Linked DNA regions of Homo sapiens: region 2 is linked to region 1. Evidence: fine-mapped expression QTL. A gene starts in region 1. The other region holds a variant in brackets. All regions are shown on one strand. Distances are between the middles of the regions.

Evidence for each region. PIP is the estimated chance that this variant, and not a neighbour inherited with it, causes the effect.
Region 2: its variant is the best candidate, but not a certain one, in a credible set for the expression of LINC02009 in whole blood (GTEx, PIP 0.74).

Annotation. Positions count from the first base shown.
Region 1 is chr3:46,421,508-46,426,887 of GRCh38, reverse strand. It overlaps LINC02009 (long intergenic non-protein coding RNA 2009), which reads left to right and starts at 3,221. Exons shown (of 5, transcript NR_151704.1): 1 at 3,221-3,343; 2 at 4,090-4,203.
Region 2 is chr3:46,395,439-46,400,818 of GRCh38, reverse strand. All of the region lies in intron 1 of CCR5AS (CCR5 antisense RNA), which reads left to right. Among named protein-coding and RNA genes, the nearest start is that of CCR5AS, 8.9 kb to the left of the region's middle. The variant GT/T (reference allele first, on the strand shown) is at 2,613.

The DNA.
Region 1 (5,380 bases):
AGAAGGGGTCAGCGGGCAGTTTGCCTCTAGTGGACAAGGGCCCTGAGCTTTACACAGCCCTCCATATTTATTAGGCAAAAGAGATAGCAGGAAGAGGGGCATGGAAGAAGGGGTCAGCTGCTGGGTCCAGAGTAGGCTTGCAAGACTGCATTCTCCAGATGTCCCAGTAGATAACCTCAAGGAGCTCGGTGCCAGGAAGTGATTGCCCTCAGCAAACCTTCTGGCAGTGGGAGCAGTCGTGAGTTTGCCCACATCCTGCATTCATGATAAATAGCTTGCTATTTGATCATAAAGCCTCCAGTGGAATGCTGAGTTGGTTACGTCCCACAGGCCTTTGGCTCCCTATTTACCCCTTCCAGGTTATTAGCCATGACTTTCCCTCTTTGTTTCTCTTTTCTATACTTTCCATGCATTCTACAGAATAAAGTATCCTGGGGCTTTAAAGTAATCTAATTCCTACTGAATCCAAAATAATCTGATTTAATCCTTGAATTTTCAAACAATTTCAATGAATTTCGTTTTTCACCAGGGTTTGGACCTCCCCCATAATAAAATCCCTTATTTCTTTTTGCCACTTCAGTCATAAAATCCAACCTACCATTTTCCATTGAAAGCTGAGTCTTTCTTATTTACATAAAAATTGTTGGATGTATCTATGGACAAACCAGGGGAAATTAAGTGTGTGGTGGGGAAGTGTTAAGAGGGCCTCAGAGTGGCTGCCGACCAGCTCCATGCATCCCTAGGTGAGTCCCCATCCATTCTCTCCCTCATTCTTAATGTGTTTCCAAACAGGTGAGGAACAATGAAAACCAAGTCGGACATTCTAGTGCTAATTATATAGAGAGAATTTATGTAAAATGTGATAAATGCAAAATATTTCATCAGAAGGAGTATTAATGTTAAATAACCTCAACTCACTAGTAATTAGGCAATCATTTTCATTGATTAGCACAATTTAAAATTCAAGTTGCTAATGATATTCAGTATTGTGAGGATGTAATGAAACAGATAGTCTTATTCAGTATCGGCAGGACCGTATTATTATACATACCCTTAGAAGGACAGTTTAGCAACATCTCTCAACATTTTAGGTGAGAAATTTATCTGCAGCTGGTGCCTCGGTGCTGATGCTGGGGGATACTGGTGAGCATGGCGCAGCATTGGATGGGGGGCTCCAGGCTTCAGGCTCCATGCTTCAGACTGCAGGACCTGGAGCTGCTTCCTGCATCACAGCAGGGCTGCTACAGTGTGCTCTGGTGCAGAACTGGCAGGGGTGCCTGCAGGCCTCTTCCCCAGCATGTGTGTTCACTTTTTTTTTTTTTTTGAGGCAGGATCTCACTCTGTTGCCCAGGATGGAGTGCACCGGAGCGATCACAGTTCACTGCAGGTTCAACTTCCCCGGTTCAGGTGATCCTCCCACCTCAGCCTCCTGATAGCTGGGACTATAGGTGCAGGTCATGCGGTGTCTCATGCCTGTAATCCCAGCACCTTGGGAAGCTGAGGTGGGTGGATTACTTGAGTCCAGGAATTTGAGAGCAGCGTGGGCAACATGGCAAAACTCCATGTCTACAAAAAATACAAAATAATTAGCCATGCATTCACTTCTGAGGGAAAAGTCATGGACTTTGTGGTGCTGTGAACCCCATGTCACTCATACCAGAAAGAACATTGTGTGCTTTGGGGTCTTGGGAAAGCTGACTGACCACCTGAGGTGATGCATACTTATTTTTTTATTTATTTTTATTTTACTATTATTATTTTTTGAGACAGAATCTCACTCTGTTGCCCAGGATGGAATGCAGTGGTGCGACCTCGGCTCACTGCAACCTCCGCCTCCTGGGTTCAAGCGATTCTCCTGCCTCAGTCTCTCCAGTAGCTGGGATTACAGGTGCCTGCCACCATGCCGAGCTTAATATTTGTAGTTTTAGTAGAGACGGGGTTTCACCATGACTGCCAGGCTGGTCTTAAACTCCTGACCTCAAGTGATCCACCTGTCTCCACCTCCCAAAATGCTGGAATTATAGGCTTGAGCCACTGCGCCCAGCCAATGCATACATTTTTCCTCAGGAGATTAGCTTTTACCAGCAAAGGGCGTTCAGAATCAGTTAGCTGACCATTGTTTTCTGAAGTAATCACAGGCCAGTCCCTAGTGGGAGAAAGAAGTGGCCTCTGTAGCAGGACACCTGGAGCTCAGCCCCAGCTCTGCTGTGTGGCTGTGTGACCTTGGGTAAGTCCCTTAACTTTGCTGGGCTCAGCTTTCTTTGTAGGCAAAATCAGGGGCTTGAGCTTGTTCTCTCTACAGCTCTCCTACAGATTGAGTCTGTCTGCAATCACAAGGAGCAGGAGAGGAAGAGACTTAAAATGTGTTATTGTGGTCAGCAGCTATGGGCTGAATGTTTATGTCCCCTCCCAGCCATTCTACTCTTTAGCTTAGAGCTATTCTCCACATGGGACCCAGTGGGTCCATGAGGTCAAACTATTTTAATGATGATACTCAGAAGTTATTTATCTCTCTCCTTATTTTACGAGTAGAATTTTCCAAAGGTTATTTGGCATTTGACAGTCTAACAGATTGGATGGAGAACAAGACAGAGAATCCAGCTTCTGGCCAGAAGTGGTGGCTCACACCTGTAATCTCAGCACTTTGGGAGACCGAGGCAGGAGGATCACTTGAGCTTAGGAGCTCGAGACCACCCTGGCCAGCATGGCAAGATCCCATCTCTACCAAAAAATATAGAAATTAGCTCGCATGGTGATGTGCGCCTGTGGTCTCAGCTACTTGGGAGGCTGAGGTGGGACGATTCCAAGGATCACTGTTGTTGCTAATTTTTTTTCTTTTAAAAAATACAGATATTTTTAATAAAAGTATGTTAATTATGTTAACCTGTAATGGGCTTATTATTTCAAAATCAATTAACAATGTAAATATTTAAAACTTCTGTGTTAAAATTTCTAATAGTATAAATAGCAGTAGATTTAGCCCACTCTAAGGGAGATGGTTGTGCTTTAGTCAGGAGTAGGCCGAGGCAGCCTTCTGGTGCAGCATGACTCAGTGGGTTTGGAGGCAGGCACACAACTCCACACATTATGTAACCATGCCATGTGAGGTGCATTAGGTGACCACTCATATGAGCACGTGCTTGGCTCAAAGCCACTATTGTCTGTAAAAGGTAAAATTACCCTGCTGACACTACATATGGCTTGCACCCAGAGAGAGAATAAAGCCATGTCGAAACCGCCTACTCGAGTGTTTTTCCAGTTACCTGCCACCCACCCACCAACTCCCCTTGGACTTTAGTTTGGGCTAGAACCTGACAATTGGCATCACGAACAGGATCCTAAGGTAAGTGAGCCTTCGGTCCCTGCTGATTCCAGGTTGGCCATGTGACCACAACATGGGTTGTGGTACCCGGTGGTAGCCGTGCTGTGAGGGTGGGCCTGAGTGGAAACCTGGGTGGCAGTAGATGGGTCCCCCATGAGCATGGAGAAGGCGCTGAAGCAGCTGGAAGTGCAGAGCACCAAGAAGGAGAGAGCCTTTGCTGGCAGAGTTGGATGGGCATTTTTAACTGTGCTAAGAAAAGTACACACCCAGTCCCTGAGGGATGCAGACTGGAGGTCTGGCTACACCGATCTGGAAAATAATTAGAGGCTGCCATGAATGGGGACCTCCAGGTGCAGGCAGGATGCCTGGAGGTGTGGCTTCAGAGCTTGGAAAAGGAATTAGAGGCTACCATGAATGCAGGCCTGGGTCCATCATCTTGTCTGGAGATCCCCACTCAGTTTCATACCAAGGAGGAAGAACCCCTGTTGCGGGCTCACCCGGTGGTCTGACAGAAGGTAGATCATGAACAGCCACTGGGGCTCCAAGGGTGGACTCAGGGACTCCCCACCATAATGCAACACATTTCGTATATTGCCTGTACCCCAACTGAGTTGCAGGAATTAGGCAAGCAGTGTTGCCAGTGTCCAGGGGAACCCCTGCCTGCCTGGATGCTTCGTCTGTGGAACAAGGGAGCAGATGGTATCTCCCATTCCACCTCTGAGATGGACAAGCTGGCCTCCACCATGACTCACCCCTCTCTCTGTCAGCGGCTGCAAGTGAGCAGGTGGTTAGTGGCAGCGCAAGGAGACCACACCCTGACTGAGTGGCTACAGGCAGCCATATGAACTGTGTGGAATAATGCTGGTGAAATGCCCAAAACTGTGAGTAAATGGCAGTCATATGCCAATTTGGTGTAAGTCATTCGGGAGATGGGTATGCGGCAGGCTATGTTTGTCCTGAATACCTGAGGGCCAGATGATAAATGTTTCACCTCCCACATGAGGGATCTCATGTTGGGTTTGATGCTCCTGAGCCCCTTTGGCTCCCTAGCTGCTGTCCTCACCCCATACGTAGGGCACCGCATACATGAAGTAACCACTGCCATGGCGGCTCTCAGGGAAGCAGAAGGCCTTCAGGGGGATTGGAGGGTCCACACCATAAAGAAGGGGAAGTTACCCCACCCACAGGGGGCTCCCCCATAAAAAAAGGGGGCCCCAACGAGTGACACGCTCACAGATGTGGATAGATTTGATTTTGGCTGGGGTTGACTGAGAGAAAATTGATAAGCAGCCCAATGAAATACTCCTAACTTTGCGGAGACAGTTGTATGCAGGGCAGCAATTCCGGAAAATGCCCAAAGGGGAGAAAGGCATTGCTGTGTGACCTGGTCCTACCCAGCTCAGAGACTACTTGCTGCAGCCAGGTGGAAATGTAGAGCCTTTTCTGTTCAACTAGGGAACTGGCCAAAGGTGTCTGGCTTGGGGGGACACCAGATGACCAGAGGCCACATGTGGAATTGGCAATCCACTGGTCCCCCACCAATGTACAGTGGGTGCTGGTGCTGGTAGATACTGGCATAGATTGTAGCCTTGTTTATGGGAACCCAGTTAAGTTTTTGGGCAAATCTGCATATATTAAAGGTTACGGAGGCCAGTCAGTGAAAGTGAAACCTGTATCTCTGTACCTTGGCATTGGCCACTTGGCTCCTTGCTTATACACTGTGTATGTCTCTCCCATACCTGAATACATTCTGGAGGTGGATATTTTACATGGCTTGGAAGCTGTGCCATCTATCATGGATTTGATGAACCACTCGACAATGGAATTAGGACAGTACCACTATGTGGTGGACTTGGCCAATGCATTCTTCTCAGTTGACCTTGCTCTAGAGAGCCAGGAACAGTTTGCCTTGATGACAATGGACTTTCACAGTGTTGCTGCAGGGCTATGTGCATAGCTCCACCATATGTCATGGTCTTGTTGCCATGGATTTAACAGCCTGAAAATGTCCAAAGGGAGTCCACTTGTTCCATTACGTTGATGATATTATGTTAACCT
Region 2 (5,380 bases), 26 kb after region 1:
TCTGCTCCACCTCACTGCTATCATCCACTGACTGCCTGGTTGCCCCTATTTTATTCAAGACTTGTGCACATGGATAAGGGGCTTCTATTCACCCCAGTTTCCCACATCATCCTGGTGGCTTAGTTGTCCATGTGGACCCCCATCTGGTGCCCAAGTCTCAGCTCATTAACTCAACTCCCTGGCCTTCGGTTTCACTCCACTAGTGCCCAGCTGAGGTTTGTTAACATTGATTTACCACTGAATTCTCACAATAAAATTTCTCACTTTTCTGATGACAACTTTTACTCCTTTGGTTTCTCTCACTCCATTTATTCTTTGTGTAATATGTGTTGTTCATCAAGCCTTCCAGCCTCTGACTATCAGCCCCTCCCACGATCACATCCCTCTTTATCTAGCTGAGATCCAGTAGTCTGCCACTTAGTCATTCTCTTGTCAACACCCTGACCTCTCTTGAAGCCCCAGCCTTAGATAAATTATCCTCTACATTTTTTCTTTGAGTGTGTGTTTCCGAGAACAGCTGTTTAAAACCACTTAGCAGCCGGGCTCAAGCTTGTAATCCCAGCACTTTGGGAGGCCGAGGTGGGCAGATTACTTGAGCCCAGGAGTTCAAGACCAGCTTGGGCAACATGGCGAGACCCTGTCTCTACAAATGTACAAAATATAGCTGGGAGTGGTGGTGTGTGTCTGTAGTCCCAGGCCCGGGAGGCTGGGGTGGGAGGATTGCTTGAGCCCGGGAGGCAGAGATTGCATTGAGCTGTGATTGTGCTACTACTACTACACTCCAGCCTGTGTGACAGAGTGAGACCCTGTTTCAAAAAAATAAAAATAAGTAAAACCGCTTAGCTATGTGGACAAGATACATTGGTAATTTAAGATCTTCAACTAGCTTCCAGAGATTCTTCTAGATTCCCTGATAGCTGTTCTGAGTGTGACAAATTGTCACTTTATCCAATTTTTCCATCAACTATTTCAAGCTACCTAAAGCTTCCAGTCTCTTCACCCCCGTTCTAATGACTCCCATTTACTCTCAGGAAATGATCTCATCTTCTGCTTTTCTCAGAACTCCTCAACTCCTCAGGCCCCAACTTCAAATGCAACTGTGGTATGTCTACATTTTTCCTCTCTCCATGGACAGAGTTGCTCCTCTAACACCAAAGGCTAATCTCTCCCCCTGCACTCTGGATCTCATTCCGTTTAACCTTCATCATTTTTTCCCACATTTTCTTTGAGTCCCAACTTTTTCCTCTCTATTAGATTATTCAGAATTTTTAAATGCTCAGATCTGTCCCTTAAATAAAGATTACAAACCCACTTTGACCTCAAACATTGGTCAGACCATTTACTGTCTCTTCTCCCCCTCTTCCAGGCAGTTTCACTAGTTGTCCAAACTCTGTTTCTACTTCATCACTGCTCATTCCCTACTCTACACCCTGCAGCCTGGCTTCTGCCCCCACCATTCCACTGAGATTGGTCTCCCTGGGTTCACCCACACATCCTTGTTTAAATGTAATCAGCTGCTGGGGCAGCTAATGCATCAAGTGCCCATGAACAGGAAGTGTCCAGGATCTCCCGGCTCTCCATTACTACAGACAATAACAACAACAAGACGCAGACATCAGTCCAGCCCACAAACACCATTACATTTAGAGATTCCCAAGCTGAAGTGGTGCTTAAGATTTTTTGACACCTGTTAAAATGTTATAGAATCTAAAAACATTAATACAGGACTTTGCAGTGAAGATGACAGTGTAGTGTAGATGAAGATGAGTAAAGCAGGATAGCAGACTCTTCCCTCCTCTAATATCTCAATGACCAAAAACTAGTTTTAAAACTATAACATCTGCTGGCAGCAACTGAACAAGAAATAGGGCACAATCTTACATCAAAACGTTGAAACATGGTGCTTTAGAGATATGCCTAAACCCAATCCTACTGGGTTTCCCAATCCTATGGAATAAAGAAGGAAAATAAAGAAATCCTGAGAATTGTCTAATACTCTCCAATCAGGAGACAAGTGGCCTTGGGGGGTGAATATGCATTCCTAGAAAGAAAAGAAAAATATTTCTTCAGTTTGACTTGAAAAAATGGAAAAAATTAAAAAAGAAAAAAAGACAAGAAAAAAGAATTTAAAAAACCCTATTGAGTTAAAGCTCCTACATTACAGAGGGTAGAAGGGTTTCTAGGACTTTTCATAGACCAGGACAATGTGCTGAGTTAGGACAATAAGACAAATTCCAAAAGAGTAAGACACCCTTGTATATACCGAATTGGCTCTGGTATAAAATTTGTTGCTTTTTTTGGATTTTGATTTTTTATAAAAACAATTTTAATAAAGTAATGATTTCATCAAATCTTTAAGGGTTATACTAGTGCGTGGAGCTTCTTAGAGGTATACAGAGGTTTATTAGCTCTGCCAGCTATCACTCAAGGTGATCCATTTCCTTGTGTGCCTTGCAGTTTCAATGTGAGTGTGTCTTGACTGGGGATTATTTTCTCTGCAGTAGCTTTTCATGGCTTGAAGTGGGAGCACTCCTTTCCAGAGGAGTTTTGAGTTTGTTTCAGCCGGGAACATTGAGGGCATCAATGGCCTGATATGAATTTTCCGCGCCTGG[GT/T]TTTGGGGTCTTCCATTTTGAGGGTATTATAAACCTGTGCATGAAGCACAGGATTTGTAGTCTCAGAGATTTTTCCCATACCACTTAAAGCCTAGGCAAAAATAGATAAGTGTTTGTGTTTTCCTCTGCCTGTGGGTGAATTTCTTCTAGTCCCCCTTTTCCCAAGTGCTAGATTTACATCAGGATCTCTCAGTTCCGGCTCCACATACCCCATAGGCTTCAGCCTTGCTGTCTGCCCCGTGTCGGAGTTACACGGACATGGCCTTTTTGATGCATGTGGGCTTTGATTTGTCTGCACCAGACAGTGACCGAAATGATCTCTTTCCATTGAGTAGCGTTTCAATGACCGTTTGTTGTAAAATGTGGTTCCTTTATTCATCTCATAGATATTTAGTGCCCACTGTCTTATAAATCTTCCTTTTGCCCTTCCATATCCATTCTCCACTCTCTACCCAGCTTTATTCTGGGGGATGCTCACCTTATTAACAGCAGGCTCCCCTGTCTTTCAGTTTTCAGTTGTGTTTGGCTGATGGGGAATTTTAGGCAGAAGATTGGAGAGCAAGGTCAGGGGAGTCAGGCCCTGGCTCCCTCCTGATGGGGTCTAGTGGGCTGATGTGTCCCTTGACGTAAGGGCAGCTCTTGTCAGGCAGCTCCCTCCCCTTGCCCTGTCTGGCCTTGCAGTGGGAATAGTGCCCTGCTCTCACTGGCACCAGGCACTGCACTGTGTATTGTGGCCTCCCTATACCTTGTCCAAATTTTTGTATAGAATCCTTCATTAAACTCACCTCAGTTGCCCTACTTAAGTGTGCCGTTTGGCTTCTGCCAAGCTCCTGAAGGACACCTCTCCCAAGTCCCAGGAACTTTGCCAGACCCTGGGGAGAAAATAGTGAACAAAGTGGAACCGTCCTCTGTCCTCGTGGCACTGGCATTCTAGAGGGAGATTCAGGTACGGAACTGACTATAATTCAGGGAGTCATGTGCCAAGCTGGGGGAGCACACAGGAGCAGTGGGAGCTGTCCCAAGAGCACCCGGCCTGGCTCACGAGAGGCAGGGGAAGGATTCCCAGGGTAGGTGTTACCTCAGTCAAGGGCGCATGGATGGGAGCCGGCCAGGTGAGGTGTGGGCCTCTTGCCCCCACTCCTCCTTTCCTCCTAATGTCTGCTTTTCAGGTTCTTGAGGGACCACCTACTTGTCAGAGATGGGGCAAGAAAAGAGAGAGTGATAGAATTCAAGGTGGTGACATTTTATTATTTATTAGCACCTGTGACTGAGTCTTAGTGAAAGAGAAAATTGAAACCAAATGCCAGACTATTTTAGGCTGGATTCCTGGGAATCCAGGGCTCAGGCTCTCTGAGAAGGAGAGTTGTATGCAGCAGACTTGTGGGGAGGGCTTCCAGGAGACACAATTGGAAAGGAGAGAACAAGACAGGACCAGGCAGAGGGAGAAGCTGCCCACGTGGTCACAGAGGAGGCCTCAGTTATTCCTACAAGGAATTAGGAATTGAGGGGAGGGCGCTAGGCCTCTGCAATCCAACATTAGCCAGTCATTGGCTCAGCCATCCCTGGGAAGGGGGCATTGCCTGGGCAGGCAGCTCCAGTTCCCAGAAAGGGGAGTAGATCTGAGTTCCAGCACCTCTGTTCCCATCTATGGGAGTGGGAGCATGGAGAGATGCATTGGCTTGAAAAGGGCATCTGGGCAGAGTCTCACAGTATCCACTGTACAGGTGGAAGGTTCTGAATTTCCTGCAAATTTCATTTACTCTGAATGATAGAAAATGGAAACAGAAATTTCTAAAGCCACAATGTCACAAGACCGTGGAACCCACATGTGGGCACACTGAAGGAGGAAGTCACGTGCACAGGAGGCCACACTGCCCACTCACTCCCTTAAACTATGCTGCTGGGGACTCATCCATCATCATTGGAGTGTGAAGTGCCCAGTTTTCACAGGGTCAGTCGAGTTGGGCAGACACTGGTCTGATATGAATCATCTTAAATAGATAAGAAACGTTTCTTTTATGAATAGAGGTAAAAATTAATACACAAAGTAGCATCCTCATTTAAAAAATATTCCCTTTAGTAAAATTAAATGACACATTGTAACTGTGCAGGAAAGGGTTTGGTCCTGGTCTTCAGTCTGGGTGGTGAGGCCCCTAAGCTGGGGACTGTGAAGGCCCTGCTTCTTCCTGCTCACGTCTCCCCCAAGGACAGTCCCAGAGTCTCCACAGAGGCTCCAGAGCCTCTTCCTTCCCAGGACCCACAACCTCCTAGCACTTGACTGGAGCCAGCTCCTACATCTGCACAGAGTCCACGGTTCCCATCTCAGCCACACCTTCTGGAAAGGGTCTTGGAAAGGGCCCCTTCCCTATCTGGTAAACCAGGACCTTCAACTTCAGAGGCTGGTCCTGTCCTCTCAGGAGAGCCCAGGGCTTGGGGGCAGAACCAGGACCTTCAACTTCAGAGGCTGGTCCTGTCCTCTCAGGAGAGCCCAGGGCTTGGGGGCAGAAGTTGTGCTTTTCTAGGCGGAAGGAGGGAACATTACTTTGTATTCCTTTGCCATGAGTGGGCAGAGGAGGAGACCAGGCAGGAGTTACAAAGTCTTTCTGCATTCCGATTGCATCACAGGGTTCCATGGATGTTTTTTCCACTCTTACCTTACTCTATGTCTCTGCAACATTTGACGTTGCTGACACTTCCTCTTACTCCCACAGCCCTCTCTCCCACAGCCAATCCCCCGGATTTGGCTCTTTCTTGGCACATCTCCTCA